Linked DNA regions of Homo sapiens: region 2 is linked to region 1. Evidence: fine-mapped expression QTL. A gene starts in region 1. The other region holds a variant in brackets. All regions are shown on one strand. Distances are between the middles of the regions.

Region 1 (12,308 bases):
AAGGATGGCTTACTATTTAACCCTTCCCAGGTTAATATTTGCACTTTAACAAGGGTCTTTCCTGTGTGAATTTCACAGGACAGTGGCAGACCTGAAGAGAAGGCTGATTTGGGCCTGCAAGGTGGGCCTGCCTTAAATCACACTGGAATGGCATTGACCTACCTTCTCCCTGGAGTTCCTAAAGTGGGGCAGCGAGCCAGAGAAGATAAATCTCTACTGCAGTCACAGCCTTCTTCTCCTCCAACTGGGATAACAACTCTCAGACACTCTGGCAACTACAGAAACAGAGAGAGCTCTGAATCAATCAAGAGTTTATTTGCAAAGGGTAATGTCAGAGGATGAACTTCCTCTAAATCCTGCTAACTCTGTACATTTAACGTGTTTACTGGCTCAGGAATTTGATTTTCCTCTGACTTGCTTTCAGAGGTTTGTTTTTTACCATTGACTAAATTATATTTTCCCTCTCAGCCCACCACCTTTCAGGGTACAGACTGATGTACGTTCCTCAGCCTCCCTGCTTCCCTCTTGCTCCGGCTAACCTAGGAATTTGCAAATAAACCCTACTGAGAAGTATGGACAGTCTGGGCCTTTCCAGAAACTCAAGCTGCTGAAGGAGATATGGTATTTAGTTAAGCTGAAGTGAAGCCCTGCATAAATCATAAAGAGGCGAGCCCAGGTTACTCAAACAAGACCTTAGGAGGTGTTTGGGGAATAGACTTGTAGGCAGCTTTATTTTTCTACAGCCGATTTACTTCCAAAATGCTGGGGCCCACAAATACCCCAGGAGCAACTTGGCTCCCAAATGCTGGAGCAGGTCTTGGCCTTGGAGCACAGTTCTGGTGTTGTTTCCTGAATTCCCACATTGCTGTTTTCCACACATGGATCGGGCTTCAAACTTCCTGTGTCTGGACTGTGTGTGCATGCTGTGTGTGTGTGTGTGTGTGTGGTTGGGAAGGGTGGAAGGGGGGAGGGAGGGAATCCAGAAGGAAGAGCATTTAACTGAAGTCGTGTATTGCATATGTGTCCCTTTGTTCCTTTCCTGTTCAGATAAACCTGCTATTTTCTGATCAGCTGGCTTCTGCATGTACAGGGCTAGTGTGTCCTTATGAATAAATAGGAGGCTGACTTTTGGAGGTGTCCTGGAGAAGGCTGTTTCTCAACGTTTGTCTTTGGAGGAATTAAGGGGGACAGTTATGTATAGAGACATAAATCTTTAAGATTTATTTTTTCTCGTATACGTGCTTGCCTCTGCTTTTGTTCATAAATGCATTTAAATCATTTAGTTGTTCACTAGGCAACTAGAGGAAGATGTGCACATTCCATATTCCTGGTTCACTTGGTAAGTGGGGGAGAATGCCATTCAATGCAAAGCACTATGGTTTTATCATCTTTCCTTCAAGAAGAATCTGGCCAGGGATTGGGAATAGACCATAAGCTATACACTCCTTCCTACTTTTCCTGTACGTTGGACAAAAATATTGCACACAAAGGGAAGATTTTTTAATTAAGACATTTATTAGTTGGCAACATGAAACACTGGAGATTTTATATTAAAAACATTTGACTTCTGGTTTCTCTTGAAAAATCAGAAGCTGTGGTCACATTGGCCTGCATTTCCCTGTAGTGGTGATCAGGCTGCCCCTTTCACATGGGTTCTGCCTTCTTGCAACCCCTATCACTGGCATTGTCTCCTGACACTAAGCCTAAGGGTTATTAGCTTTTGTGTGTGTGCATGTGTGTTTGTGTGTGTGTGTGTGTGTGTGGTAAGAGATACGTAACAAAATTTACCATTTTAACAATTTTTAAGTGTACAATTCAGTGGCTTTAAGTACATTCAAAATATTATACAACTATCACCATTATCTAGTTCCAAACCTTTTCATCATCCCAAACAGAAATTGTACTATTAAACACTAACTTCCCACTCCCTCTTCCTCCAGCCCCTGATCACCACTACTCTACTTTCTATCTCTATGAATTTATCCATTCTAGATCCCTCATGTAAGTGGAATCATACAATATTTGTCCTTTTGTATCTGGCTTATTTCATTTTGTGTAATGTTTTCAAGGTAGACATTTGATTTTTTTAATGGATTTTATTTTGTACAGCACAGATATTGATTTTTATTGTGCAATAAAGGTGTATTTTAAGAAAAAAAAATAAAGGCCAAATAGGACAGGTAGTTTGGGATGTGGAATCTTGACTTCTGAGCTTAAAATGATCCTCCTTTTTTCCATATCGTTATATGGAGGTTTTTAATGTGTAGTATCTAGGCAACCCAGTGTCTTTACACAGGTGTTTTACAGCTAGTGGTTAATTCTCCTGGTCTCCCCCAGAGGGCTTTCTATACTTTATAGTCAGGATATGAAGACACAGGGATGCTGTGGGGATTAGTTAAATGTGTGTGGCACAGTGTGCTGTATAAACTAACTCTCTGGAACTAGTTTTCACTCTCTGCTCTTAACTTCCACAGCTTTTACTGTCAATACCATTCATTTGGCACTTAGCACATGCTTGTTAGTTGTCTTTTTATGTTTATATCCTTGAAGGCAGGAGCTAAGTCTCATGCCTCTTTGTTTTTTCAGTCTTGTCTATAATAGCGGCTCAATCGATGTTTGTTGATGTTGGCCTCCCCCTCCCCCTCTCTTTTAAGTAGTGCAGGCAATGCACAGCTTTAAATCCAAACTCGGTTTAAACAAACTGAAAGGTTTTCAGGGTGAAAACAAAGAAGTCTTGCATGGCAGGATAGAAGGCTTGGAAGACCTGGGTTAAACAGAAGTACCAAAAAGCTGTTTGCCACAGGTTAAGAAATGACTCACACACAGCCTGACTCACCATTAAGTTCAGAGTTCTGCTAACTCTACTCCATCAAAATTTGGAGAAGAGTAATGCCCAAGCAGGGTTTGAGGAGCGGATGTTAAACGAATTAAGTGTTTTAGAGGTTTCCATTGCTCCAATTCCATTGCTCCACAGTATAAGTCGCTGTGGGGAAAGGAAAGCATGTTAGAAAAGTGTTTTGAAGGCAACTTCAAGGCTAGGGGCAGGCATACTACAAATGAGCCACCAGGCCTTTGTTACCAGGATTTTTTTAAATAGCATCTTCCGTAGTAGCAAAAGATGGGAAATAGCCCAAATTTGCTTCCATTTTTTTTAGAGATAGAGTCTTGCTATGTTGACCAGGCTGACCTTGAACTCCTGGCCTCAAGGGATTCTCCTCCCTCAACCTCCCTAGTAGTTGGAACTATAGGCGTGTGCCACCACCGTGTCTGTCTCCCAAATCCCCATTTAATAAGGGGATGAGTAAAGGAATTTTGGCACAGCTATGCAATAGAATATTGAGTTATAATAAAATAAATAAGGTAAACATAGTTATCCTGAGATGGAAGAATATTTCAAATACATTGTTGAGTAAACAAATGCAAGGTGTGCCTTGATTAATGATCCCACTTGTAAGGAACAAAAAGGGAATATGCACTCATGCTTGAATATGCAAATAATCTATTTGGAAGATGACATACAGTCATAAAGAGAATGGGACTATGGGAGCAGAGTGGTGGAGAAGAACTTTTCACTGTAGTCTTTCAGTACCTTTTTGTTTGGTGTTTTTTGGTTTTTTTTTGACGGAGTCTCGCTCTGTCACCCAGGCTGGAGCGCAGTGGCCGATCTCAGCTCACTGCAACCTCCGCCTCCCAGGTTCAAGTAATTATCCTGTCTCAGCCTCCCGAGTAGCTGGAGCTCAGTGGCTGATCTCAGCTCACTGCAACCTCCGCCTCCCAGGTTCAAGTAATTATCCTGTCTCAGCCTCCCGAGTACCTGCTACTACAGGCGCATGCCACCACGTGCAGCTAATTTTTGTATTTTTAGTAGAGAAGGGGTTTCACCATATTGATCAGGCTGGTCTTGAACACCTGATCTCAAGTGATCCACCCGCCTCAGCCTCCCAAAGTGCTGGGATTACAGGTGTGAGCCACCGTGCCCAGCCCAGTACCGTTTTATCTGAATTCTTCCATGTGCATGTTTAACTTTTTTCACTTGGACAGCATTGATTTTAACAAATATCCTTTTGCCTCTGTGATTGGTAGTAGTCCTGCAGCATATACCCGCCCCCCCACATCTAGCTCTCCTGTCCACTCCAAATAACAAGGCTGAAATAACCTTTCCTTGCTTCACAAACCAGGTGTCTCCATATTTTGAACATTCAAAAACTCACTTTCTCCATGAAAAATCACCCAAATAACCTCACTTCATACATAAACAGAATCATAACGAGAATCATTTTGTGCACACTCCTGCTTCTGAATCTTTCCACAGCTCCTAGCAGAGCATGCTGCACACTCCATGACATGCAATAGTCCACTACTTTTCCTGCAGAGTTGGATTCTGAGCCCCTGTTTACTGTGTGATAGTGTTTCCTTTAAGCACACTTCCTCTTGCATGCCTTGATCCATGGCCCCCCAGATGGCTCCCATTAGGCAGGCTTGAATTGGATGTCACTCTTTCATTGGCATGAGCCATTATAATGGCCTTGCGCTGTCAAGGCGTTTACATTTAGGCTTGCTTCCTACTTGAAATGTTTTCTAGGAAATATGGATCTGTAGAGAATGGTGGTTTCCATGGTAAATGTTCCTTCATATTTGTTTTCTTAAGTTCACTTCGGAGATACACAGCATGATTTCCTCTTTCAGTACCAGAACCACAATAGCTTTAAGTTGTCATGAAATTGTAGAACTTTAAAAAAGAAATCTCACCCACCCTGCTTAGAAAAGGGGTAATTTATTATTCTAACTGCAGGGAGTCAACTTCATATCCACCCCCAAAATTGTAGGAAAAGAGTTGACTTTTTAAAATAAAGCCACAAAACCTACACGACCTTGGATGTAAATGCTTAAAACAGATGAGCAAAATATTGATCCTCTAACACATCTAAGACTCTCCATTATGTTTCACACACAAGTAGGAACACATACATGTGTGGAGTGCTTTATAGTTTTCACACACATTTTATTTTCATACCAGTGCCTTTAAGTTAATAGGGCATGTCTTACAGCATTTACTTACAGGTAGAAAAATTAAGGCTGAGAAGTTAAGCCACTTAACAGAAGTCATACAATTAGCTAGTAAGTGCCAGGGCCCCAAATGAATTCTTCCTTTGGTTCCAAATTCCATGTTATTTTGCTACCCTGACACTGTTTCTTTGTGCCTTCGTTTTTCTAGATGTAAAATGGTAGATTTTCCGTGTCCCAGGATGCTGTTCTCAACCCTCTCGTTTTTAACCAATGTCAGCTTTTTTCACAGTCAGCAGAACACCACAATGACACTTCATGTACTTTCCCCCCTCCTGATTTAATAAACTAAGGGGGAAGAAAAGTTACCTATTCGCAGAAAGCTGGACAGTGCCATAAACATAAAGGCGTACCAGAGTCGGCCGACACACTGTTGCACTCTTTTATGAGACTGAGAAATAAAGCGTCTCATCTTTCTCTTGCCAGCAGTAGCTGGGGTAGAACATAGAACTACACAATAGCCTCTTGTTTAGTTTTATTAATTTTGAGGGCGGGTGGGACAAAGGGATCAGACTGGCGACTCCAGGGCCCAATCGCAAGCGTATACTAGGCCAGGCTGGGCCAACCGGTAGCTGCAAAAGAATGGTGGGCGGGACTTACGCTTCAGGGACGCGCTCCGCCCAGGCCGGCGCTCCCAGCCCGCCCAGGGGCGGAGCCTCCGCGGAGCGCCGCCCGCGACCCCTCCTCCCTCGCCCCTCAGCTTCTGCGGCCCGCCAACGGGAGGGGGGCAAGCGCCCGGGGCGGGGGAGCGGAGGAAGAAAGGAGGGTGTCTCGCAGAGCTGTGACCTGGGTGGGGGCCTGCTGGTAATAGGAAGCAAGAGGGGAAGGAAAACGAAGGAGCGCTTCTCCTTCCTGCATTATTTTAAGCAGGCTTTGGTGGAAGCTGCTTTTCAGCATTTCTATTATTTGTTTTTCTTCCTCCCGCAGTGGGGCGGGGAGCTGCACTGGCTCTCCCACGCGTCTATGCCGCGCTGTTGCCGCAGATTATTATTGTAGTCTTTTGCAAAACCCTTTCCTTCTTCCCAGCCAGTCCCCGCGCAGACTCTCACGGCTACGGCAACCGAGTCGTGCCCCTCTAGTGGGAAGGCGAGAGCGAGGGTCCCTTGCTTTCGCCCGAGCTCCCGGACCCCGCGGTTCAATTGTTTGAAACTTCCACGCCCCCCGGCCCCGCCTCTCTTCCGCGCTCCCCTCACTCCTCACTTCCAGGGTCCAGGCAGGCTCCCGCCCTTCTTTCCCCGCCCTCTACTCCGCCTTCCTCCCTCGTCCACCCCTCCCGCCGCCCTGCTCCGGGGCGGTCCTAGCCGCTCACCGCAAGAAGAAAAGCCACCCGTTCGTCCCCCTCCCCTACCTCCCATCCTTTGCCCAGGAGCTGCCTTGGCAGTCACGCCCCTTCCTTCCGAGGAGCTTTCTGGCTGCCTAAACTGGTAGACCCCCTGAATTACTCCTCCATCTCCGCTCTCTTTCGCCTCCTCTTCTCTTAGTTCTCTCCGCCTCCCCCTCAACTACCACCACCTCCAGTCAGTCTCGCCTCCGGCTATCCGCTGCTCCACCCTCTGGCCCGGTATCCTGCCTGTCCGCTGCCACCAAGGAGAGCCCGGACGGAGCAGCGAGGAGGGGAGCAGCCGGGAGTTGGGGCTTCCCCCCTGCCCATCCCTGGCCGCTGGCCCGGGACCGAAGCCACTTGAGCGAGCAGAGAGTCGTCACCTTGTCTTCTTTGCCTTCAGGGGTAGGAGACGCGTGGTTACTTTTCGCGGGGAACTGGGGCAGGAATCCATGGTGGCATGAACTTGGTCGTGCCCTCGGCGTGAGTGAATCGATCTAGGCGCGTGTGGGAATGCCCGTGTGTTCTACTTTCTTTGCAGCTCGCCATGAGTTTTTTTGGATGTGCAGCAAGTTAAATCGGTTAGAGTGTGCGCTGCTTTCCCGTCCTACTTCGGTGAGGAGATGCTAGTGGGTACCACTACTAGATGGTACTTTTACTTCTTTACCTCCTGGGGTTCTTGTGGGTCTCTAGGTAATTAATCACATTGAGGAGCTAAAGACCCGAGGGAAGCTGAAATCTACATTTAGCCCAGCATGCATGTCAGTGCTTATCTCAGATAACTAGATAGGTTTCTGCTAAGTGCTTAGGCTTGGGGTGGGGACTCACACTCCCTGAGGCGGGAGCAGGAGGGGTAGGACCGTGAATTCTTGAAGTTTTAAAGTCTGTGTAATCTAAAACAAGGCTACTCTTTGAGATGTGTGGTGGTGGTGGTAGTGCTTGTGGTGGTAGTGATAGTGGTGGTGAGGAGGGAGTTGCCCCTATCTGCTTTAGAAGATCCAAAGATGTTAGTAAATAGTTTTGGGGGATCTTGAGGGTGTCTTGAGGGTCCAAGCCTGGGCCACTGCACATTGGTGCTTCAACAGTAAGATGGGCTTCATGGGTTTGTGAAAATGAAGAGAAAGAAAAGGGGGAGGGAAAATAACAGTCTTTAATAGACTGTGAGCAGTTCCTGGTAGATTGCCACTAATAATAATATAATAATTTGCATAAAGGGACTAAGTAGAATTAAATGAGCAAGGAAAGAGAAAGTTGGTGAGAAACAGCATTTTCAATCTCTAGTGTATGTTTTAGAACGAACTTTTCAACAACCTGGGATGTTTAGTGCATGAAGTTCTCCTCCCTCCCCGCCATGAAGAGTGGACGTTGGGAGGCAGTTTAAAACTTTTATGAATATAACCCTCTTCTCCCATTCAGAGAAGAAGATAATTAGTCACCATAATCTTCAATGATGAAGGGCTAAGGATATTTAAGTCTCCTTGAGCTAGGCTTTGTGAAAAGTTCTTTCTCAGGCCAGCCTTTGTGAAGCCTTCTCAGTTAGACCTTTCAGCACCCTCATTTAGTAGCTAAGAATAGTTTGAAATGCCATTTTGGATGTGGTATACATTTTCATCCATCTCCCACCTATCTTCAATTGGACAAGTGCGTCAAGCCTGTAAGTGATGGTGTTCAAAGACTTATTACTGAGATGTCCTTAACCCATTGCTTATTTGGGAACACATTATTAACATACATTTTAAAATAACTTTGGTTGATTTTAATGAGTGAAAGGAAAGTAGGAAGGTAGAGAAGGGCGACAATTTTAAAGGCTATCCTGTTTCAGATCAGCTGGGAGGGAAAAGCTGGCCTGACCAAACTACATTTTATAACTGGCCTGGGACATTTTAACAGCCAGGTGGTTGTAGAGTAGTTGCCTCTATTTACAGATGATAACTAAGGTTCCAACTATTCTGTATGGGTTTATCCGGCGTCATTGACAGACACTTTCTGGCACTACATCATACTTCATTTTAAATTACTTCTTTCCTTGGAAAAGTTCGTGGCTTTGTAAAATTGTAAGTGCTTTTTCTACCTTCACAGTCTAGATGTGAAGTAAACCTCTGACCACAATTGTATGTGGAGTCACTTTTACATGAAATTTGTGGATCTGTTTACCTATTTAAAAGATTTTAGAAAGGGAATTTTAATAATTCATAGTCAATGCAGTTTTGGATTTGGAAATTAAAATTTCATTTCTGGTTTATGAAGTTTGATTTATTAGACTAATTCCCAACAAGGACATTTGTAGAGTTGCTTTTTCTTTCTGAGGTTTTGTAAAGACTGCATCAGACTCTAGAATGCTTTAAGAATAGCCTAATCAGAAGGCAGGGGGATGGATACTATGACCTTGAGGTCCCATTGAGTGCCAGAATTCTAAGTGGGTACATCTGCTTCTGTGCCTCTCCCAAGAGCCCTCTCCCAGGGCCTGCGCCTTCTTTAAAAGGGTGTCTTTGTAATTAAGCGGCCCTTCTTCCCCATCCCCCTTTCTTCCTTTGATCCAGCTTTTTAAGGCCTTTTTTTCCATTTGGAGACAAGAGGGGTTTCTCACACTTTCCTGTTCCCCTCTTAACGCTTCTTTTCCTTTACCCCAGAAAAGTCCCCTGAAGTTCTCAGGATGGTTAGAAGTTGTTTTGTTTTGTTTGGGGCGTGGGGGTGGAGTGGGGGAGTTGTTACCAATGAGGAGGAATAGAGGATATATTCCCTCTTGGGAAATGCTTGTGACCAGGTAGCCTCCTCCATGGAGACTGAGCATTTGGAATGCATGAGAACAGTCTATTCTTGGGGACTGTCTGGTAGAAATTGTCCTTTGCACCCATTAAGCCCAGCTTAAACACTGAAAGGGGTGGGGAGAGGTGTGTGTGGTCGTACTGGAGCCTTTTAGGATGGTAAATGGGTAAATGTTTCCAAATCTCCTATTACATCATCTCTTTCTCCCATGGATTCAGTAGGTTTAGTGATCTGCTTGACAAGTTAATTAGCTGGGGACTAAACCAATTTGTTTAGAATTGTGATCCATTGATTTCCTGTCCCCAGGAATTTTTGTTGGTGTTTTACTATGATGTGTTGTCTTTAGTCTTACTTACTTTTCCCTCCTTGCTGCCTTTTGTGGACTTTGGTCCAAATTCTAGGGTTCCACCCCCAAGTCAAAGGTTAGAATTTTGTCCCAGGAACTAAGGGGGTATTAAACAGGCTGGCCATACTGCATTACTCTCCTCCATGGTGGGCTTCTGACCCCTTTTAACCCAGAGAAAGGAGGGAAGTCGCCCCTTCCACACACAACACACACAATCTGAACAAAAAAAAAGAAAAAGAAAAAGAAAGAAAGAAAATAGGAGGTCATTTGCTTTATAAAAGAATCCACAACAGGTTTTCTTTGTAAGTACTAGCTTTCCTAGTTAGTGCCTTTAAACTATGACTTGATATATAAAAATTCACTCTAACTGGGCCTTCTCGGAAGCATATTTATTGCATAAAGGAATACATAAGAATTTGTAATGATTATCGCTTAAATTAAGTGAGGCCATTATTTGGCCTTTGAAATCTTTTTGTTATATGGAATGGAGTTAGTTAATTGTCTAAATCATTCTGGCTTGTAATAATGCTGGCCACGTTAGCTCTGGCCTACAACTGCTTGCAGAAGAAAGCTAGTATTACTTTTTGAAAATAAATCAGACTTTATAGATTTTGAACAATTCTAAGGATGAGACTATCCACCCCATATAGGTAAAATGTTTTATTTCCAGCTACTGTATTTGACTAACCCAGGGATCCAGAAAGTTATTTCTAGTAAATAATGGCGACTGATGCCACTTTAACCTAAGAATCTGCAATAAGATTTCCTAGTGAGCCTATTGGTGAGAAGGACCTGGGCTCTAGGCCCAACTGTAACTCGGTTTACTACCTCTGTTAAGTTTTTTTTTTTCCACTGTAAATTATGGGTTTGGACAGGGTAATTTTGAGAGCCAGTTCTTATACGTTTATGGTTTTCTTTCTAGGCCTCAATATCTAGTATGAATGTGAATGATTGCTACTAGAATGAAGTGCAACAGTTGTTAGAAATTCAATCATCTAGTCATCATGTTAAAGAAAAAAAGATCCTGTAAGGATATATGAATATAGATGCATTATGTTTTACATTTTAACAACCCAAAATTAAGAAGCTAAGACTCTGTCCAAAACTTCAAGAATTCCATCATCCTAAGAGATCACCTGCTTTCATTTTTTCTAGTTCCTTTCAAGTCCTGGTTCCTGTACTAACATGAGTTTTAGATAATTGGAGCCACAGATATATACAATGTTGCTTTTCAATAAGAGCCCACCCAAGACTTAACTTTGTGAACCCATGTGGAGGAACTAAGTCAGAATCTGACCGAGGACACATGAAGACTCCCATATATTTTGTTTCTCAAATGCCAGGAGAGGCTAATGGATATAATAAGTAATCCCTAAACACTCTCTGTGATTCAGGAGTTGTTCATGTATCTAGCAAGGCTGTTAATTTAATTCCTTTGACCTCCTGTTATCCCTCCCCCATTCTTGTTAACAACAACAACAACAAAACTAGGGTCCACTGTTTACTTTGTGTAAATCATTGGCAATGATTTTTAAGTCACTGTATGGTGAAATCCCATCAAGTGAGTATAAATTTGAGTGGAATATGAAATCTCCAGAATGAGAAAGGAGAAGCAGGAAAGCACAAATATACTTGTTTTGTAGCATGGAAAATAATATGTTTAAATTAGACTAAAAGATAGCAAAGAAACTAAGGATTTTAGACAGTTAAATAAAAGACAAGAAGTGCAGCAGCAGAATGGCCCACACATAATGGGTTCTTCATCTGAGGTCTTCACCATGTAGTCAAATTTCATAGTTCTTTAATTTTCCTTTGATAACAAAGGTGTGGTATACATGTGATCTCTAAGATTTGATGGATTAGCCAGGCATGGTAGCTCACACCTGTAATCCCAGCGATTTGGGAGGCAGAGGCGGGCGGATCACCTAAGGTCAGGAGTTCAAGACCAGCCTGACCAACATGGTGAAACCCCTGTCTCTACTAAAAATACAGAATTACCTGGGTATGGTGGCGCATGCCTGTAATCCCAGCTACTCAGGAAACTGAGGAATAAATTGCTTGAACCTGGGAGGCGGAGGTTGCAGTAAGCCAAGATCACGCCATTGCACTCCAGCCTGGGCAACAAGAGCAAAACTCCGTCTCAAAAAAAAAAAAAAAAGATTTGATGGATTCATTCCTGGAAACCAGTGGCTCATCATAAATTAGATTAAATTTCTCTAACTGGAATAGAAAGTGTGGTATGGGTTTTTAGTATTTAGAAAGTAGCAAATGAGGAACAGGAACTTTTTTTTTTTTGTAATATATGATCCTGGAGAAAATGCAAATGGGTGTATTTGCCAATGTTTCCTAAGGCAATTCTTGAAAATCTACTCTTTTAAGTCTGTGGGCTTGCCTTGACATTTGTAAAGGCACTTTCACTCTTGCCCTAACTCCATGAAATATCATTAGCCTGTGTGACTTGAAGCCAGGATCTGGTTTTCTCTGCCCAGCCCCTCTCTGTCTTACCATGTGACCAAGGGTAAATGAATTAGCTGCTCTAAGCTTCAGTTACCCTTCTGGGAAGCAAGGATATTAATAATCACAGAGGTGTTTCGGCATGCTTCATATTGGGCACATGCTTTGAGGTCATTGGATGAAAGGTGTTTGCATGATGGCAGAGCAGGCTTATTATAGGGTCTTGAGCAGGTGTTCCTTTTTAATGAGCTTTGCTCTCTTATAACATACAGTGCCCTTTGGTGCCCCATTGCCTTACTGACTGTAATTACCATTAACCCAACATTTGTATTATTGGCCCTCTCGGCTTTTTGGAAA
Region 2 (12,308 bases), 26 kb before region 1:
AAGAGGAAAGAGAGAGTGTAAAGAAAACATATCCACTCCTACCTGCTTCAACCCAGAAGAGACACATCACTTCTGTTCACATTCTATAGGGGAGAACCAGTCACAGTGCCCCATTTAGACAAAGGGAGACTGGGAAAGATATTTCAGCTCTGTTCCTAAGAAAAGAAAAGAATCTTGGTGGACAACTATTGATAACTAGATGTAACTGGTAGTAACTAACTTGTTAACTAAAGGTAACTAAAGATAACTAGAAGAAGCCAAGATGCAAAAAACAAACAAAACCAAAATCCTCTCGAATCTAACTTATTTCATGTTAAAATCATAGTGACAACTACAGAAAACTAGAAAAAATAGAGGATCATCTTAACTAGTAACTAGCTAACTAGATAATTAGAATAACTGGAATAAGCCAAGAAACTCACGATGATATTTTCATCTCAACTCTAATTTCTCATCTCTTGCTTGAATAACTAGGGATAACTAGATGTAACTAACGTTGATTAGATAAATAATGAATTAGAGATAACTAGAGTAAACCAAGAAGCTAAAAAGTATTCCTCTTAAATCTAACTTTTCATTTCTTATTAGAAGAGCGAGCGAGAAGTATAGAAAACAAAAAACAGAGAAATGACACGATTAGTTAACTAGTAACAAGCAAACTAATAGCTAAATATTATAGACAACAAGAATAACTGAAGCTTAGAAGATCAGAAACACACATTCCAATCAATTATAACATCCTATTTCTTATTTAAATAACTGAGAGTAACTAGATATTAGTAGTGGTAAATAGGTAAATAGTTAACTAGAGATAACAAGAATAACTAGAGGCAGCCCCAAAAAACTGAAAAAAAAAAAAAAAACTGAAAAACACATTTCTCGCCAATTTAATTTATTACTCCCACTTTCTGAGCATTGTCCACCTCTCTATTTCCTCGTTGTTGTAATGTGTCCCCTATTAGGATACCCCATTGTTTCATTGTAAATCCTATCTGCTTCTACTGATGTTGAAGACCAATTCCTTCACTGGATGGCTACGTCCAAAACATCTGCTCCATTACTAGTTGGAGTATAATACTGCTAGATTGGTGCTCAGTGGTGGGCCACAGAGAGCCAGGTATGAAGTGTTGCCCTGTTTACACAAAAGGAGGAGGGGTTGCTGGAGCACAGACTATATCTGGGATACGGAGGGAGCCAGACGACCAGTTTGAACATGGCCATTATAGGAAAGTACATTTTCAAATGACAGCAACCCAAATTAAAGTCACTTGGGAAAAAAACCAAAATGATTGGGTTATCTAACTGGGAAGTCTAAGGTAGATATGGCATATTTGAGCCAGATGCTGAAATGATACCATCAAGAATATTTCTGTCCATCTTTTGCTTTCCTTTATTTGTTGGCCCCATTCTCTTCTCCTAAGATAGATTTTTCCATATGGCAGGAATGATGCCTGTTTGTGGCTCCCTTTCTTATTCTAGATTTATGACCTCAAAAGTAAGGCCAATTTTCTCTAGATCAAAATTGAAAATTTCAAGGAAGGAATCTGATGGGCTAAGCTTGGTCACATACTCAACCCAGAGTAATTAGTGTAGTTACAGAAATGGAGTTTTATGTTTGAATGGGCTTGGGTCAGCACCCAAGCCCTGTGACCAATGAGATAGAGCACTATGATTAGCAGCTGCCTCAACAAAATCACATGATTGTACAGCACAAGGAGCAGTTCCACCAAATGAGGTAAGGGTGCTGGACAGAAAAACCAGGTATATCCACTACAGCATCCAAGCGCTTGTAATCAAAGGTTTTTGAGCAGACAGGTCCAGACCTCTACTGAGATGTCCTCTGGGGGTTTGTCATGGATTGGAACTAAGCTTATTCTAAGGTATTGCTTGCTGAAGGATATTTCTGCTGTTAGAATATTTGTCAGGTGGTCATCTATGATGAAAACAGCATTGGAAACAGTTGGAATTGGAAGATACAAAGATGAAAACCACATTTGGTGTAGAGTGAAGTATTCTTGATAGATATGTAATGTGGTCAGTGTAAGAGACATCCAGTGAGGGTAGTAAGGCTACCTGCATATTTTGCTATAGCAGGTATAGAAATTGAGTCATTGCTCAAAAATCTGGGACTGATGTACGAAGATAAGTTTGTAATCAGTAAGATGTCAAAGAGAGACTTTCTAGATCCAAGAGCTGAATTTAGATAGAAAGCAGAACATTTACCTAAGGATGCATATTTGTGCAACCTATTTTTAAGAGAATCTAGTTTCAACGTAATGGATGGCATCATAGCCCCAAAGTCATGAGTCATCCATATCCATGATCAAATCCAGAATTATGAAGGCCCATGTTCAAAATAGTTTTGGATATATTAAATTATATAATAGATATTAAGTGCTTAACACAATCAGCACATTTTTTTTTTTTTTGAGATGGAGTCTCGCTCTGTTGCCCAGGCTGGAGTGCAATGGCCTGATCTCGGCTCACTGCAAGCTCCACCTCCCGGGTTCATGCCATTCTCCTGCCTCAGCCTCCCAAGTAGCTGGGACTACAGGTGCCCACCACCACGCCTGGCTAATTTTTTGTATTTTTAGTAGAGACGGGGTTTCACTGTGTTAGCCAGGGTGGTCTCGATCTCCTGACCTTGTGATCTGCCCACCTCAGCCTCCCAAAGTGCTGGGATTACCGGCGTGAGCCACAGCATCCGGCCACACAATCAGCACATATTAAATGTTCTCATAATAATGAGAGCCAATGGTTCTCTCATTATTATTATTGTGTGCATGGCATCATGCCAGGTATTTTAGATACATTATGTGACAATAATCCTATTTAGATCAATATTGTTACAATATTTTAAATAATTTGCTAAGATAACATAAATTTTTATTTGCAGAGTTGGAATTTAGCCTAGGTCTATCTGACTCCAAAGCTTGTGTTCTTACCATTACGCCACAGGGCTCCCATGAAATGCTGGTAACATCCTATGAAACCTAGAAAGACTAGGTACAACTGTCTACCACTTCCTACTTCCCACTGCAGTTTCATAAGTATTATTGAGACTTTAATGTCATCACTCTCCAGGATAGATAACTGATATTTCTTATCCATGACTTCTTAGACTACATTTCCTCTCACCTAGGTCTCTGAAAGACATTCAAATTGATATAAACATGAAAGGAAGATTAGAAGAAAACTACCTTCCAGACTGAATACAATGTGCACCAGTTCAGACACTGTACTATCCATAACAGCCTTGAAGTCTTTCAGAAATTCATGAAAGTTGTATTTCATTATGTACTAGAAGAGTGTGTGGTTATCAGTCTACTTTAGCAATAATGGGATGTACTCCAATGTTATTGCTTGAGTGAATAGAACATCACATTCTGGACAGATCTAGTGGGAGCATCAATTCTATAAAGAACTCCAGAAATGTCAATTTAACCTTCTAATGTCAGGTTTCTTACCTTGTAAGGAATTCAGATGTCAACTCCAAAATACCATACCATACTCTAAGCACCAAAAATATACCATGTAATACCTAGTCTTTCTAGGTTTCATGGGATGTTACCAACATTGCATGGGAGGCCCGTGGCATGTGGTTGCTATAACCAAGCCAAGACGCTACCTACACACTGTGCTTCTGTGTTTTATAGAACACTAGAGTCCCACCACACATTGATAGATAGATAGATAGATAGATAGATAGATAGATAGATAGATAGATAGATATTGCTAGGGAGAAAAGAAAATATATATGGTGGTCAAAATATCTGGGAAATAGTGGTTTAAATGTTCAATAGGGCCAGGTGCGGTGGCTCATGCCTGTAATCCCTACCCTTTGGGAGGCCAAGGCAGGAGGATTGCTTGAACCCAGGTCTATTGTCAAGACCAGCTTAGGCAATATAGTGAGACCCCATTTCTGCAAAAAAATATGAGACTTAGCTGGGCATGGTGATGCATGCCTATAGTCTCAACTACTAAAGAGGCTGAAGTGGGCGATAGCTTGAGCCCAGGAGGTCAAGGCTGCAGTGAGCCAATATTGTGCCACTGCACTCCAGCCTGGGCAACAAAGCAAGGGCCCATCTCAAAAATAAAAATAAATAAATAAATAATAAGTGTTCAACAGGTTTATTACTTATTAAATTCTCAGAGATTTTAACAAGCTTATGTGCTATAAATCTTTAGGAGAAGCATCTACTATGAACTGTTTTCAAATCCATTTGACCAGGAATTTTTTTGCTTGCTTGTTTTTGATGACTATGTGCTAACATACTACAGAAAACCAGTATGTTTCCATGAAATACAGTTTAGAGGATAGGTTACACACCCTCCCCAGGCCTTGCTGTGCTGAGTTCACTGATAGAGGCTGGGCTTCCTGTTTCCAGAGCACACTCCTGTTCTCTCACTGGCACAGAAACTCTTTTCTCCATTCCAGTCTTTATGGCATTAACCCTGACCTCTTGCTTAATTCTTGTCAGATTCCTCTCCTTGGGGACTGTCGATGATTAAGTGATAAAGTATGATGAGTAAATGACATGGCCTATGTTTTAAGAGGTAAATTACACATGTAAAACACTCAACGCACTGTCATTTGGCATATACTCAGTAAATGTTAGTTTCTAAATAGATGTCAAAGATTTCTTTAGCAAAGCCGACATCCATCCCAGACTTTTTCTTTTCATTTTATACACTTTGGTGTTATTTGGAATTTTTAAAGCCGCAAACTTAAATTACCCTCATTTTAAAAATTATAATAACTAAATAAGCCAATCACAAAGAAAAAAAGCACTGTGTGATTCCACTTATGTGACATACCTGGAGCATTCACAGAGGCAGAACATACAATGGTGGTTACCAGGGGACATGGGGAGGAGGAAGCATTGAGTTAGTGTTTAATGGGTATAGACTTCTATCTAGGCTTGCAAGACGAAAAGAGTTCTGGAGATCAGTTGCACAAAAATGTGAATGTACTTAACACCTCTAAGCTATACATTTAAAAATGGTTGAGATGGTGAATTTTGCATTATATGTATTTTACCCCAATTAGCAATTTTAAAAATTAAAATTAAAATAAATAAATGAAAACATGTCTCTCCCTTCCTCTTGTCCTGCTTAAAAGTCTGCTTACCCTTTGTCCCCCACTTAACCTATTTTCCATATTGCCACTGCAGTGGTAAATCTGACCACAGTACTCCCCATTAATCACTATAGGATAAAATGCCAAGTTTTCAGCCTGACATGCAAGGCTCTTTAACTAAAGCCCCTACCTAGCTCCATCTCTTAACACTGCCCCATTTTGTACCTCTGATCAAGCCACACCACATTGCTCTTTTCAAAATGTGGTATTTCATGACTTCTTGTCTCTGCCTAAAATGACTTCTCAGAATCCTTTGTATGCCTGCTGAACACCTCATCTTTCAAGACTAGGCTTAGTGTCTGCTCTGTGGAGCTTTCTTTGACCAAGCAGAACACTGCCTCTTTTGTATCACCGCTCTACCTGGTAGAGCACTCTATCACTGCAGGTAGCATGCGGTATTGCAATGGTTTGTTTATGTCTGCATCCCTCAGTAGACTGAGAGGACCTCAAGGGCTCATTCATGTTTATATCCCCAGGGTTTAAAGCATGGTGCCTGCTACATAGGAATTGATTAATACATGGTTGTTGAGTAAGTAAATGAATGTATAGAAGTGGAAGCACAGATCTGAGAATTTTTATCCCTATTTTCACTACTACTATCAATAAAAACCCACAAAAATCCTTAAAGAAACTGTG[T/C]GTTCTCAGGGTAGCAGGCAGACCAATACCTGGTGATAGAAAAGAAAAAGGGTGGGAGCAGCCTCAAATGCCTAAAAGTGTCTGCCTTCCTTCTCTTTTCCTGTTCCTGAAGAGATCACCACTATCTTGGAGTCAGGGTTTGTTCTCTTTCACACTGCCTGCCTGATAAAGGATTGAGTAAGGGTAGGGAACAGTGCTGGAGGGGAGCCACCCCAGGAAAGGGGAATTTATTCTGGTCTTCCTATGTTGGATCAGAACTGTTTTTCTTTTCTTTTTTTTTTTTATTTTACTTTTTCTGGTTACATGTGCAGAATGTGCAGGTTTGTTACATAGGTATACATGTGCCACGGTGGTTTGCTGCACCTGTCAACCCATCATCTAGGTTTTAAGCCCCGTACGCATTAGGTATTTGTCCTAATGCTCTCCCTCCCCTAGACCCCCACCCCACCCTCACAGGCCCTGTGGTGTGATGTTCCCCTCCCTATGTCCATGTGTCCTCATTGCAGAACTGTTTTTCATAGAAATGTTATTATATATGATGTACTTAAAGCTTTACTTCAAGCACATTATAGGTTAAGTAGCCTTAGGTGGACTGGTTTGGGAATATCACCATAATTTATAACATTGTTTATATAGGAAATTTGTTTCTGAGTTCAAAAAAAAACAAACTTTTGGAACTCGACATGAGGACTTCCTGAATTCTTTTTGAAAATACAATAAGTGTGTCAATAGGAATCCAGAGATTTATGAAAATGAAGAGTTTTAATTAGCGGAAAAGTGATCACGGCAATATTTAGCTGTAACACTGTAGGCATTATGACTAATTTATACCAATCCTATTCTGTGGTTCTCAAATTACCCATTATTACAACTAGTCTTAAACTCTATAACAAGGTAATTTAAATAAAGTTTTAAAATGCAAGTTCCCATTTTAAACCCAGTCTCATAAAGGTCCAGCATCCAATACAGCCTGTGTTGTGTCATACATGATGCCTGCAACTTGCTTTAGGACACAAGCAGCCTGTAAAAGCGATACACCCTCTCTCAAGCACTTTAACAGCAAAATGTCAGGCCATGAAAATGACTCACTAACTTACAGTTTGTCATCAGGGTAAAATATTCCCTGAAATGAAACAGTCTTCTGTAGGAACCCTCTGTATGTAAACAGATGCATCTGAAACCCATATGACCTATATGGTTATTTCTGGCCATTCCCCTTCCCACATCCAAATGTTTGTGATATATTACTATGCAGTTGAAGGCTGCAAGGCAATATGCATGATTTGAGAGGAAACAGTTCATTTACTGACACTACACAGAAAAGTTGAAGAAAGAGGCTTTCTTTAAAAAAAAAAATAGAAGAATCTAAAACTGCTTTTAAGAATCACCAATTTTCCTGTTACAAAAAACAATCATAGATATCTGTCAAATACTAATGACAGTCTGTCAATCACACCCAACCCCACCCCTCCCTGTTTTCAAGAGCTTGTCTTCTTATTGTAAAACTAGCTTTTAACTTTTTCCAAAGCAACAGAATTATATTGCTGCTACGTGTGACTGAAATGTGTGACAGGTTGTTTGGATTGTAATTCCAAGGTCCCAGTTATGACCTATCAGCTAATACACTCTCCTTATTCAATAGAGCCTTGTGTCTACATAATGTCAAACAAATGGCAGGGCACTAAACAAATAATGAGCTGATTTAGTAACCTGTGGAGTGTCTCAGGTTATGCTGCACAGTAGGTTGGCAACTTGAGATTATTCTGAGAGGCACAGTGAGGCCTGCCCCATGGTAATACTGTGATATCGAGCGATTGTCTGGGCCATTGTCCCACATCTTGTCTGGGTACACAGTACTGAACATGGTAAACACATTCATTCACTAAATACTTGAATGAACCCTGAGGAAAGACTTTTAGATCTTTCTGAGATGGACTAAACTCACCTAGTTTTTTTCTTATTTTAACCAACCGATTCACACACATTCCAAGGAATGAACTACTCAAACAGCAGCAATATTTTCTTACATGTTCCCCCAGGGAAATCTTAGGCTATGGCAAATTAAGAGAATTGCTCTGTCTGTCTGGTGACTCAGGGCACGGCTGGATTAAAAGAAAACGATATATTAAGTTTGGGTCCTGGTGAGAGCAGGAGTGGGAAATGGCCTGAAGTGTTCAGGGAAGGTAACAAAGAAAACATGGGCCTTGGGGCCTGCTTTTTAAAACAGATGACACTTGTCCTCTCAAACTCTGCTTCTCTCTACCTCTGAATTCATGAAAGCATCTTTCTCTCCAATCCCAAAACATGATGTACACCTAGCCATTCTCCAAGTTCAACCTTCCTGACTTTCCTATGAACATTTATAACACGTATTGTCACATTCAGCATGGACAACTCTACTGACTAATATAGCTAGTACCATGGCTTGTCTACACAGCTGGATCATAACCTACCTGAAGAGAGGGGCATTGTCCTCTATTTCTCAGGATAACTGTGCAGTGCTGGGTAACTCTTCTCTTCCTGCTCCTGTTGGATGTTTTGACTCTCTCTTTGCTTACTAACATGCACAGGACCTTCTCACTGATTAAAAAGACAACAACAACAAAAACATGACTCTGCCTTCCCTAATGTTTTATCATCAATCTTCTTCTTTTCTTACTGTATTCCTTTCCCTAGATGAGATCATCCACTCTCAGGATTTCAACCATCAACTATGAAGATGGTTTGTAAGTGGCAATCTCCAGCCCTGATTTTGTCTTAGAATTCCAGTACTACCTCGCAAAACTGCCCTATGACTTGCATAATTTTCTGTCATCTCATACTTGGCCTAGGAATAAAATCCCCCTCCAACATCCAAACTGGTTTTTCTCCCCTGACATTCAGATTTCTACTAATGGAGCATGAGTCTCCATATTATCATATTAAGTTCAGTTTATTTCAGCAAATATTAACTGGGTGCTTCCCATGAACAAGACATTGAGCTCAGAAATCTTGCTAGCATATTTAAATCTTTCCTCTCATTTTGTGTTCAGTCTAACCTGAAGCTTAGTATGTTCTTCCTTTGAAATGTCACCTGTATCCAAATCTTCCTCTCTATTCCCCTTGTCCCCCACCTCAGCAGTCCCAGGACTCATGTTCTTACTATCCCTGTGTTATTACAGCCTTTTGGCTAGTTTCCATGCCAGTATCTCTCTTTTCTCGATTGCAGTGGTTCTCAAACTTTGCTGAATATTAGGAATATCTGGGGATCTTCTTAAAATCTTAAGGCCAAGGCTATATCCCATACTATTAAGTCAGAATCTCTGAGGTTAGGAGCCAGACATCAATATTTTGTAAATCTCCCCAGTTGATTTTAATGTGCAGTCAGGTTTGAGAACCCATGATTATTCCTCTCTACTCACTGTTGCCAGGACATTTACAAACACTGCTTCATTACGCAACTTACTGGTTCAGAAACCTTTAATAACCCCCCATTGACCAATTTCAAGGCTCTTTACATTCTGATTCAATACTAGCTCATGAAACCTATGCCTTCCCACCTCAATGACCATCCACTGGAATGCCTTTCCTCTGCTTATCCAAATCTTATTTGCCCTTTAAGGTCCAGTTTATTTAAAAAAAAAAAAAAGCGTTCCCCACTTTGGGAGTCCGAGGCGGGCGGATCACAAGGTCAGGAGTTCAAGACCAGCCTGGCCAATATGTTGAAACCCCGTCTCTACTAAAAATACAAAAAAAATTAGCCGGGCATTGTGGCACACGCCTGTAATCCCAGCTACTCAGGAGGCTGAGGCAGGAGAATTGCTTGAACCCGGGAGGTGGAGGTTGCCGTGAGCTGAGATCGCGCCACTGCACTCCAGCCTGGACGACAGAGGAAGACTCCGTCTCAAAACAAAAACAAACAAACAAACTAACAAACAAAAAAAGCAGTCCCTGAGGAATCTAGACCACAATGATTATCTCCCCTCTGGACACTGAAGCACTTTTTGCCTATATAGTCCTTTCCTAACTATCACCTTGCAGTAATATTTTCTGCTCTTATGTCTCATTTTCAAACTAGTTTGTATGGTTTTGAGGACATAGTCTATATCTACCATATGACCCCTACTGTACCTACTGTACAGTGCTGCAGCGCTATGAAAATTATAGACATTCAATAAATATATACAATGGTTTATGTCCATCCAATCATAAAGAATATTTCAATCCACATGTAACTAATCTTAAATGTTTGTGCCATGTTGTAATATAATAAAATTAGGCAGTATGCTTAATATTCTCGACTTTTTTTTTTTTTTGAGACACAGTCTCGCTCTGTCGCCTAGGCTGCAGTGCAGTGGCGCGATCTTGACTCACTGCAGGCTCTGTCTGCACCCCCAGATTCATGCCATTCTCCTGCCTCAGCCTCCCGAGTAGCTGGGACTACAGGCGCCCGCCACCATGCCCGGCTAATTTTTTTGTATTTTTAGTAGAGACAGGGTTTCACAGTGCTCGCCAGGATGGTCTCGATCTCATGACCTCGTGATCCGCCTGCCTCAGCCTCCCAAAGTGCTGGGATTACAGGCGTCAGCCACCACGGTGGGCCAATATTCTCTACTTTTTGTCAGTAGACAGACGAACAGAAAAGAGGATATCTCTCTGAGATGGGGCTGCTTGTCTTGAATACCTCCTGACTGAGTATATTCAAAGGATGTAAATAGACTGCATGTAATAAACCCAAAGGAGGATATTAACAAGTCAACATTTCCTGTTCACGTGGGAATGCCAATTCCATTTATCAAAGATAGAAACATTATTCTTTTAGTCTGATCCTCCCTTTTCGGCTCCTCACGGCCCGAGACTATCATCACTAGTGGAGCCAAGAAAAGAGAGAAAACCCTCCCACTGACCTTCAGACCACTGGGTCAGAAAGTTAGGCTAACAATAAAGATTTTTATGTTCAGAAATGTTTAAATGGGCTATTTGTAACTGGAGGTAGCTATGGGTCACGTAAAAAGCAGGAGGCCTGGAGTCAGAGGAGCTGGGTTCAAATCCCAGCTCTGTCACTAAATAGTCCTGTGACTTTAAGCAAGTCACCAAGCCTCTCTGAAACTCAGTTTCTTCATCAGAAAAATGGGATGGGTAATAAATAGCATAGTATTTGGGAGATTATTAAATAATACATTATATGTGACTGTCCCTAGCACATAGTAGGTACTCAGTAAACATTAGCAGATTTGAATAAGAAGGTTAAAATAATCAGGCTGGGCACAGTGGCTTACGCCTGTAATCCCAGGACCTTGGGAGGCCAAGGCGGGCGGATCACTTGAGGTCAGAAGTTCAAAACCAGCCTGGCCAACATGGTGAAACGCCATCTCTACTAAAAAAAAAAAAAATTAGCTGGGCATGGTGGCGGGTGCCTGTAATCCTAGCTACTTGGGAGGCTGAGGCAAGAGAATCCCTTGGTCCCTGGAGGCAGAGGTTGCACTGAGTCAAGATCACGTCACTGCACTCCAGCCTGGGTGACAGAGTGAGACTCTGTTTCAAAAAAAAAAAAAAAAAGAAGGCTAAAATATGTTATTTGCACATTTAGCATCAAATGTAAATATTTTAACAAAAGGGAGCCATCCAGCTCCCCAAGAAAGATCCATACATTTTTAAAAATGAGCGTCTTGTTTGGAAATAATTTCAAACTTAGAAAAATTACAAGAATAAAACGGCACAAAGAATACTCACCTATACTTTACCCATGATAATAACCCTATTATAAACATTTTACCCCATTTGCTTTATCATTTTTATCTGTCTATCTAAATTTCCAAATCATTTGGGAGTAAATCGCATACATCACGGCCTGTTGCCTCTAACTGCTTTGATGTATATTTCCTAGCTATGAGCATATTGTCTTACATACCACAGTGCGGTTAATAATTTCAGCAATATCAACATCAGTCCAATATTTTATCTAGTCTACTAACTCTTTTCCAGTTTTGTCAATTGGCCCAATAATGCCCTCTATAGGATGTTGCTCCCCTCCCATATGAGATTCAGGCTAGGATAAGGTATTTCATTTAATTGTCATGTCTCTTTAGCCCCATTTTATCTGGAACATTTCCACAGCAGTCCTTTGTCTTTTATGACAATGGATGTTCCATAAATTTTAAAATTGAAACTGAGTACTTTCACAAAGTATAGCAGTTAAGGGCATAGACTCTGAGGCCAGACTGGCTGAATTAGAATCCTACCCCTGCCACCAATTATCTGTGTAACCTTAAGCAAGTTACTTAATGTCTCTGTGCCTCAGCTTTTTCATAAAAAATGGGGCTGATAATGCTACTTCATGGGGTTGTTGTGAAGATCAAATAAATTAGCACACATAAGACATTTGGAAAGTGCTTACCACATGGTAAGTGCTCAATAATGTTACATATTAATATTATTATAATTCCAATGCCAAATCAAACCTACCCAAATTTACTGAGTACCTCTTACATGCAAGGTATTTTACTAAGACCAAGTCATATGTACCACACCAATTACAAAGTCATAGAATGTT

The links. PIP is the estimated chance that this variant, and not a neighbour inherited with it, causes the effect. A credible set is the group of variants that fine-mapping cannot tell apart.
Region 2: its variant is the best candidate, but not a certain one, in a credible set for the expression of AMOT in whole blood (TOPMed, PIP 0.52).

The regions. Positions count from the first base shown.
Region 1 is chrX:112,834,934-112,847,241 of GRCh38, reverse strand. It overlaps AMOT (angiomotin), which reads left to right and starts at 6,411. Exons shown (of 14, transcript NM_001113490.2): 1 at 6,411-6,790. It overlaps LOC107985651 (a long non-coding RNA gene), which reads right to left and starts at 5,516. Exons shown (of 3, transcript XR_001755993.2): 1 at 5,374-5,516; 2 at 2,837-2,983; 3 at 163-275. RefSeq lists a silencer at 5,566-5,905.
Region 2 is chrX:112,860,949-112,873,256 of GRCh38, reverse strand. No RefSeq gene overlaps it. Among named protein-coding and RNA genes, the nearest start is that of AMOT, 26 kb to the right of the region's middle. The variant T/C (reference allele first, on the strand shown) is at 5,777.